Homo sapiens: one gene and its partner. The protein of the gene in region 1 interacts with the protein of each later gene in a pairwise test. Each region holds a gene or a part of one and is shown in the gene's direction. Other genes may lie near its edges.

Region 1 (4,109 bases):
ACTCTAGGCAACTCAAAAACCAACTTCTCTTTCTCATTTTCCCACAAAAAGAGAAGTTACAGGTTTGTGTGACCACATGAGCAATATTGATTCCCAGCCATGTGAAGATTGGATAATGAAGTACACTCATACTTGTCACTTTTGCCAGCTGCTCCGAGTTGGGGATGTAGAGGTCCTCTAAGTAACACTGCTAGAGCAGGCCTATGGTCATGTGATTAACTCGTTTCAGCCTGCTGATCTCAGGCTGCTGAGAGCGCTGTGTAAGTTCAAAGAATCATTAAGTGGGACAAATACTATCTGTAGACAGGTCTGTTAAATCATTCCTTTACTCAGAGACAGCAAGTCCAGCATGGGTAGGTGCCATGAAGACAGATAAGAGTTATATGATACAGTCCCTGCCTTCACCAAATTATAAGCTGGGTAGGAAGCTATTGAGCAATGTGAAATAATTAGGAGATGATACCCAGTGTGTATAATTAAGCACCCGGGTACCAGGTGCAGTATGGATCAAAGGTTTGCAGGGACCATTAATCAAGTGAAGCTACAAGTGTTGGGAACCTTTCCTTGAAAGATGGACAAGAATTAAAGAGTATGGAGATGAGGCATCTAAGCTGAGTGAATTCCCTTTCCTCTGCACTCCCAGAGCTTTGAGTTGAGCCAGGGTGCCGCTCTGGCCTGTTGATTGGCAGCTCAGCTAATCATCCCTGGTTTTCCAGGCCTATCGCTGGATGATTGACTCCAGAGATGACTTCACAGAGGAGCGCCTGGCCAAGCTGCAGGACCCATTCTCTCTATACCGCTGCCACACCATCATGAACTGCACAAGGACCTGTCCTAAGGTACGTGGGGCTGGTGACCCTCAGCTCTGCCTCAGAGCTGACACGCCAGAAGTAGCATGTGCTCACAAAGAGGTGATTGGCAGAGAGCAACCCTAGTCATTTGAGAAGGAAAGGGACCAGCATATGCCTGTCCTTTCAGTGTGAGCCTAGGGGCTAGTTTGGCTCTTAGTTGCAAGGAGTAGACTGACTCGGGCCACCTCAGGAGCAGGCTTTATTTGTAGGCTACACAGGGACATTGTGGGAGTTAAGGATGCACAGGAACCCATGAGCAGGTACCTGCGTTCAACCTTCCCAGGAAACAGAAAGCGAAAGCCGTTGGAACGTGGGCAGCTGTGAGGACTTCATTTCTTCTCCATCTTTCTCGCGATGTCAGCTGCTAATCTGCTCTGCTCTCTAGCAGCCTGTTCTTTCCTTCGGCTCTGTGGAGGTTTTCTCTGACTCAAAGCTCTGGCTTTCGTTCCTCTTCCTGCTCGCATTTGCTGCTGCTTTTGGCTCACTCTGGCCTGGATTTTGCCTCCCAGCACACTTCCAGCTTCAGCCACCCGCCTGCCTCCCAGCACTTCTCAGCACAGTTTCCTGAGAGGGTGTCGCATTGGCCCAGCTCACCTTCTCATGCCTGCACATCAGAGGCCACAGCTGGCTACAGACCGGCTGCCCTTTGGCCAGGTTCTGTCTCAGTCTGTTTTGTGGTACTATCACAGAATTTCAGACTGGGTAATTTTATAAAGAAGTTTATTTGACGCACAGCTCTAGAGGCTGGCGCCAGCATCTAACAAGAACCTTCGTGCTGTATTACCCCATGGCAAAAGGCAGAAGGGCAAGAGAAAGGGAGCCCAAGCTCAGCCTTTTTTTTTTTTGGAGACAGAGTTTCGCTCTTGTTGCCCAGGCTGGAGTGCAATGGCACGATCGATCTCAGCTCACCACAACCTCCGCCTCCCAGGTTCAAGTGATTCTCCTGCATTCGCCTCCCGAGTAGCTGGGATTACAGGCAGGCACCACTCATGCCTGGCTAATTTTGTATTTTTAGTAGAGATAGGGTTTCTCTATGTTGGTCAGGCTGGTCTCGAACTCCCGACCTCAGGTGATCCACCCACCTTGGCCTCCCAAAGTGCTGGGATTACAGGCGTGAGCCACCGCGACCGGCCCCTCTCATCTGTTTTTTTTAAAAGACAGGGTCTCACTGTGTTGCCCAGGCTGGGGTGCAGTGGCGCAATCATAGCTCACTGCAGCCTGGAACTGCTGGCCTTAAGTGATCCTCCTACCTCCTGAGTAGCTGGGACTACAGGCACACACCACCACACCTGACTAATCCAAACTCATCCTTTTATCAGGAACTTACTCCTATGATAATGGCAATCCATTTGTGAGGGCAGAGCCTTCATAATCTAATCACTTCTTAAAGGTCCCACCTCTCAATACTGTTGCATTGGGGATTAGGTTTTCAACACATGAGCTTTTGGGGACACATTCAAACCATAGCAGGTGTCAGCCCTGGTCCAGTCAGCCTTGCCCAGTGGGCAGGGAAGGGCTAGGGCTGTGTGGTTCAGAACACGGCTGCCCTCCGAGCAAAGACTGTGGGTGATTTCACTCAAAAGTTGCAGTGAGTCAGTGGGCGGCAAGGTGGAAAACTGTAGGGTGGCCAGTTAGCCGTAAAAAAAGATCACACTGTGTGTTTGAAAACATGAAATCCAAGCTGTAGAATTCACTTATTTTTTGCCTGGAAACCCTCTGTGTTTCCAGTGGCCTCGCTGGGGGAGCCCACAGGCTTCAGCTCCCTATTGCCTGGGCTTCCATCTGGGTCCTGTCCCCAGGACTGTGGTTTACCATGATTGTGCCTGTGAATAGCTACTGACCTCTGAGGCAAGTTATGCTATAAAAGTGCTTGGAACAGTGCCTGGCACATAGTAAGCACCCAATAAATGTCACCTTATGTTATTTTTTAAAAAAACATGAGTACTGGGCTTGTTTGAGACAGAGATAGCATCTTCAGTGGTGGGGCCTGGCTGTGTGTTTCTTCAGAAGCTCTGCGAGTGACTCTAAGGTGCATTCCTGGTCACAAACCTGTGCATGGAGGGGATGGGTGCAGCAGACAACTGAGACAGCCAAGAACAGGTTCTCTGTGCCTTGCCCTCCCTTCTGTAAAACAGGGCTGGAAGTTGGGACTGAGACATAGACATAGGCCGATCATGAAACTGGAAGGGACTTGAAAACCATCAAGTTTAATCCCCTTATACAGATGGGGAAATTGAGCCCCAGGTGGGGAGGGGAGTGACTCGCCCCAGATCACTGTCAGGTCAGTGGGAAGGTAGGACTAGAGTTAGGCCGTCTGCCTCCCCATCCAGTGCTCTTTCTTCCTGCATGGATTGGGTATGTACCAACCTTCTAAGTCTAAACACCCTTACTGACCCTGTGGGGACCGGAAATACACAGGTAGATCCAGATTCAGAAGGATATACAGTGAAAATTCTCCCTCCCACTCCACCCAGCCACCTCCCTAGAAGTCAGATTCTTGTGTGAACTTCAGAGGTGTTTTATGCTGCACACAAATGCATATGTGTCCTCTTCTGTCTTTCTTATATCACATTTATCTGTATTTTTTCACCCACTATATTTTGGAGATTATCCCATGTTGGTATATGAAGAGTGTCTTTTTGACCAGCCTGGACAACATAGTGAGATCCCATCTCTACAAACAAAATTTTTTTTAATTAGCCAGGTGTGGTGGCACGCACCTGTAGTTTCAGTTACTTGAGAGGCTGAGGCCGGAGGATCACTTGAGCCAGGTGTTCCAGGCCACAGTGAACTATGATCACACTTCAGCCTGGATGACAGAGCAAGACCCTGTCAAAAAAATATATATTTTTTCTTTCTCTTCTTCTCTCAAGATCTCTTTTCTTTCTTTCCTTTTCTTCTTTCTTTCCACAACACTTTTTTAGGGGGGTAGACTTATCCTTCTAAAATGAGGGGAACCTTCACTAACGTCAGATGAGTACTTGTCTCATTTTACCAAGTACTTGCTTGGTAAAAGCAAGTACTTGGTAAAGTACTTCCTACTTTCTACTTCAATGAAGCTGGCATTCAGTGGGTTTAATTATTGTGCCTCCTGCAAAGCAGATGTTAACAGCTGTAGGGGCAAACTGCAGCTAATACCAATGGTATTGGCCAGTTGAAATCATCATGGTTTTACAAAGGGTTAATAGAGAGGGTAGTTTCTTCCACATACTTTTGAGAGCTGGTATATGCTGATTTCTGCTGCTGCCTATTTAATAA
Region 2 (4,668 bases), on another chromosome or scaffold:
TAGGCTGGGATCACTATGGAAGCAACTATGCATTGGGGGCAGGTGAGATCCTTAAGATTTCTCTATTTGTGCCCAAGCTTTTCTCTCACAAGGGACAATTTCATGACCCTTTTATTTTTTTTATAAATATAATTGCAAATATTCCTAAAACTTGTATCAGCATATGATATTAGTAGTAGTATTCTCCTTTTCAGGCCAGTATAATGATAAATTCATTTGTGTAGATAGTCCACACAGTCCTAGGAAAGGATCCTGAGGTTGAATGTTGTAAGGAAGAGTAATTATAGGTGAAGTAAGTGTAGGCCTTTTGCCAAAGGGGAAAAAAAAAGCCCAAAAAGGCTAGCAGAAGGAGGTCTCAAATTTCAGAGCTTTGATGATACCATTTTACTAAAAGAAAAATTTTCCTTGGTTTTTAACAGCTAATATAATGCCTTCGTCGTCTCATCTCTTTGGCTCAATGCCATGGGGACCATCGGTGCCAGTTCCTGGGAAGCCCTTCCATCATACTTTATATTCTGGGACCATGCCCATGGCTGGGGGAATACCAGGGGGTGTGCACAATCAGTTTATACCTCTGCAGGTAAGAAAAATAATATTTTTAAGATAATTATTTGTTTAATGCTGAAAGACTATTGATAAACATTTTTTTATTCAGTTTACTTATTCAGTGCCAACTAGAAGTTCAGTACTAGTGTGGGTAGTAAGAAGGCAATGGTTGACAAGTCTGACCTGTCTCTGCTCTCTGAGTTTGTGTTCTAATAAACAATAATTGTACCAAGTAATATGCTATTCTAATACAGATTGATTAAAATCAGTAATATAAATAAAATCACAAATATTTTCAAAATAACCTATGAAGAATTGTATTTTTATTATTATTATTATTATTCATTTTTTTGGAGAAGGATCTCACTCTGTAGCCCAGGCTGGAACGCAGCCCATGCACAATCTCGACTCCCTGCAGCCTTGACTTCCTGGGCTCAAGTGATCCTCCCATCTTAGACTCCCGAGTACCTGAGGCTACAGGCATGTGCCACCATGCCTGTCTAGTTTTTGTAATTTTTTTGTAGAGATGGGGTTTTGCCATGGTCTCGAACCCTAGGTCTCTACCGATCCACCTGCCTCGGCCTCCCAAAGTGCTGATATTACAGTTGTGAGCCACTGCACACAGCCCAAGAATTTTAAATATTTTGTTTGTAACTAAGTCCTTTGAATTACTAAAGTCTTACTTGGCAATTATAAGTGGAAGTCACAGATCAGCTGTGATTGACAAATATTAACAGCATGCATGGTTTATGGTAATTTCCAACACTAGCTAATTTTTTGCCTACATTATTAATTAGTGATGCTTTTATTCCTAACAGGTTACTAAAAAAAGGGTTGCAAACAAAAAGAACTTTGAGAATAAGGAAGCCCAGAGTTCTCAAGCCACTCCAGTTCAGACTAGCCAGCCAGATTCTTCCAACATTGTCAAAGTAAGTCCACGGGAGAGCTCATCAGCTTCTTTGAAGTCCTCTCCGATTGCTCAACCTGCATCTTCTTTTCAAGTTGAAACTGCCTCTCAAGGCCATAGTATATCTCACCATAAGTCAACACCAATCTCTTCTTCAAGAAGAAAATCAAGAAAACTGGCTGTTAATTTTGGTGTTTCTAAACCTTCTGAGTAAATTTGGCTCTTAGAATTAAGTTAATTTCTTCTCTTTCCATCTACCTTTTTATAAATACATATCTATGTCTCATAAAAATTAGAATGTACTATTTTAAAATAATATGTGTAAATTGAAATTTTTTTCATTTTTAAGTTATCAGGCACTTTTCATGCTGTTTAAAAGACTGTGTATCAAATTGTGCACTTTAAGTATGTGCAGTTTGTTGTATGTCAATTATACCTCAATAAATCTGTAATAAAAAACTAAATTAAACCTTGCATTAAAATAATATCACAGTATCAGTGGACTAAACATTAAAATGTACCACTCTAATCATTGGCCTCATGATTGAAGCATCCTGAACTATGAATTAGACATCAGTTAGCAATAATAAGCATTTTTTACACTATCATTGAGGAATAATTACATGGAGCATGAAATTTGGGCCTCCAGTATAACTTACTGAATGTGGATTTTATTTCTCTTTTTAATGATGTAAGAAAATTGTCAGGAGAATGGCTCTTATTTATGTGTGTTTTAACTTATGCTTTGTTGCCTCTGAGGGTCTTTAGACCTGCTGTGAAAGGATCACATTTGTTGTGGTGCTGCCAGTTTTGCTTTATTCTAAATTTTGTACCAAAGCAACTTTAGAATAATCAGAATATTTCATCTAACTGCTTAGAACTATAAATAGCATTCTAAATTTGAGTAAATACAATTTTTTAGGTTACTCAAGAACCAGCATTAGTAATTTCTAGTAAAATTGTTTCAAAATCTACAGGGTACAATGATTACAAATTAATCTTCTAACAAAATAAAATATGAAATATTAGTCATGTTAATTAATAAACTGTATTATTTTGTATAGCTTTTTATTTGCTTACCTGACATTTTATGAGAGCTTCATAGTTGGTCGGTATGTAGTGCTTCTTGGGACTGAAGAAATTCTAATTGTTGTTTAAGTTCCAAGGTGTGCTACAATATAGGAGGCACAGTCATCAGTTTGTGACATACATTATTTACTGCCTATTTCATTCTGATTCTATATTTTTAGCTTTATGCTGAACTGTTCAATGATGCTGGGATTCTCTCTTTGCATGTCATATGTGAATGTGTGGTTCAAGCTGTAACTGTTGAAATTATTTTAGAATTTATGACGATTTCTCAGCAGGGCCTATGTTTATATATATATATATATTTATTCTTTAGTTTTTGTGATATGCTTATATTTTTAAGGAAGTAAGTTATAGCATACTTTTTTAAAAGTAGGAACCACAATCTTTATATGGAGCAGCTTGTTATATCTGATTTTCATGTAACTCATTGGAAACTCTGCCATGACTCTTAAAGTAGTCTTACTTGTTTTTTAAAATGCTGGTATTAAACTAAATGGACTCCTTTCACTAACTGCTGATTTCAGAGTTTAAATGTTAGCAGGATATTTGTGTATTAGCAGTGCCTTCAGTATAAGAGAGAAATATTCATTATCTGTCATTTATCATAGTCGTATAAGTTTCCATGATTTTATTTTCTGTTATTTTCATAAGTTCAGATGTTTATCAGTTCCCAACATTGTTTCTTTATCTGTAGTGGGATCTTGAGTAATGAGGCTCAAGTAAATCCTCAATGTGTATAATTATTGCCTCATAAACTCTCTCTTTGTTTTTAAAGGAAACATCTATTATGGTAATACAAAGAAAAGTTAAATTGTGACAGTAATGTTATATTAACCTCTTCCTACTTTAAAGTGTGAAATGTTTCACCTCAGCTGTACAAACTCCAGCATTGAGAATTTGCCTCACTCATTACTCCTGTGTGACAGTTATATAAATAGCATGCAGCTCACATCTGTTTTAGAGCATAGAAGAAGCGGCACCTGCCATCTTCTGAAAACTCCAAAGGGAAATTTCAGTAGACATAGTGCACTAAACCCATAAGGATACTTGACCAATATTTGAGCACAGCAAGCTGACAGTTCTATACAGATAGGCAGTGAAAGAGTTTTATTTTCCAGCCAGGCGCAGTGGCTCAAATCCCAGCACTTCGGGAGGCTAAGGCAGGCGGATCACTTGAGGTCCGGAGTTCCAGACAAGCCTGGCCAACATGATGAAGCCCTGTCTCTACTAAAAATACAAAAATTAGCCGGGCGTGATGGCACATGCCTTTAGTCCCAGCTACTCGGGAGGCTGAGGCATGAGAATCATTTGAACCCGCGAGGCAGAGTCTGCAGTGAGCCGAGATTGCACCACTGCACTCCAGCCTGGAGAGCAGAGCAAGACTCTGTCTCAAAAAAAAGAAAAAAGTTTTATTATCCTTACTTTTTTTTTAACATTATTATTCTAAAGGTCAAAACTGAGAAGAGATTAAGATAGGAGAGAGCTCCATAATGGCTGGATAGTGGTCAGGCATTCTCTATTCTTTTCCCCCTGTAGACCCATTCTAAATGTGGGCCTGAGGTCAATGGGAGATGTGCCCTCCCTATGGAGGATGTAAGAAGCAGAGGCCATTTCTGCCCCATGTTGAGGAAACAATCTGTTGATAGACCTGGAATTTAGAGTATATCTGAAAAGCAGTTGGACTTCAAGAAATTTAAAATTCTCTCTTTGAGATGGGGTGGACTAAGACCACCCCCAAAGTTTAAAAATATGCTCATTCAACTTGAATCTTCTGAGGACTTTTTGTGAAAATGGTGGACTGTTTAGGGCATAGGACAGATTCCCCAAATTGCTTTATGCTTCCACATAACTAGAGCACTTCAATCTATTTAAGCCTTTGTCTCCTAACTGAAACATTATTTCTAAATATTTCTATTCAATAAGTTTTTTCTTTTTTGAGCAACTTAAGTGAATTTTGAAGATTGCTCCTTCCAGTCTCGTTCCTTTTCACATTTTCCTGCATTACCTAATAATTACCTCAGCGTTAGAATTTGAATGTATTAATTGATTTAAACATCATGTAGACTAAAGTCTTAAACATCTAAGACTCAGTTGTAGTTGCAGAAAAAAATTAAAGTCACCTC

The links. The genes of interacting proteins can lie anywhere in the genome.
Region 2: the proteins of SDHB (region 1) and XRN1 interact in a two-hybrid assay, tested with the Homo sapiens proteins (one large-scale study listed by BioGRID).

What each region holds. Positions count from the first base shown.
Region 1 is NC_000001.11:17,019,338-17,023,446, reverse strand, and holds part of SDHB (succinate dehydrogenase [ubiquinone] iron-sulfur subunit, mitochondrial isoform 1 precursor), read left to right. Parts: intron 1-716; coding exon 717-839; intron 840-4,109. UniProt on the Homo sapiens protein: Iron-sulfur protein (IP) subunit of the succinate dehydrogenase complex (mitochondrial respiratory chain complex II), responsible for transferring electrons from succinate to ubiquinone (coenzyme Q).
Region 2 is NC_000003.12:142,308,510-142,313,177, reverse strand, and holds part of XRN1 (5'-3' exoribonuclease 1), read left to right. Parts: intron 1-3; coding exon of another isoform or gene 4-42; intron 43-419; coding exon 420-580; intron 581-1,364; coding exon 1,365-1,667; 3' UTR 1,668-4,668. UniProt on the Homo sapiens protein: Major 5'-3' exoribonuclease involved in mRNA decay. Required for the 5'-3'-processing of the G4 tetraplex-containing DNA and RNA substrates. The kinetic of hydrolysis is faster for G4 RNA tetraplex than for G4 DNA tetraplex and monomeric RNA tetraplex.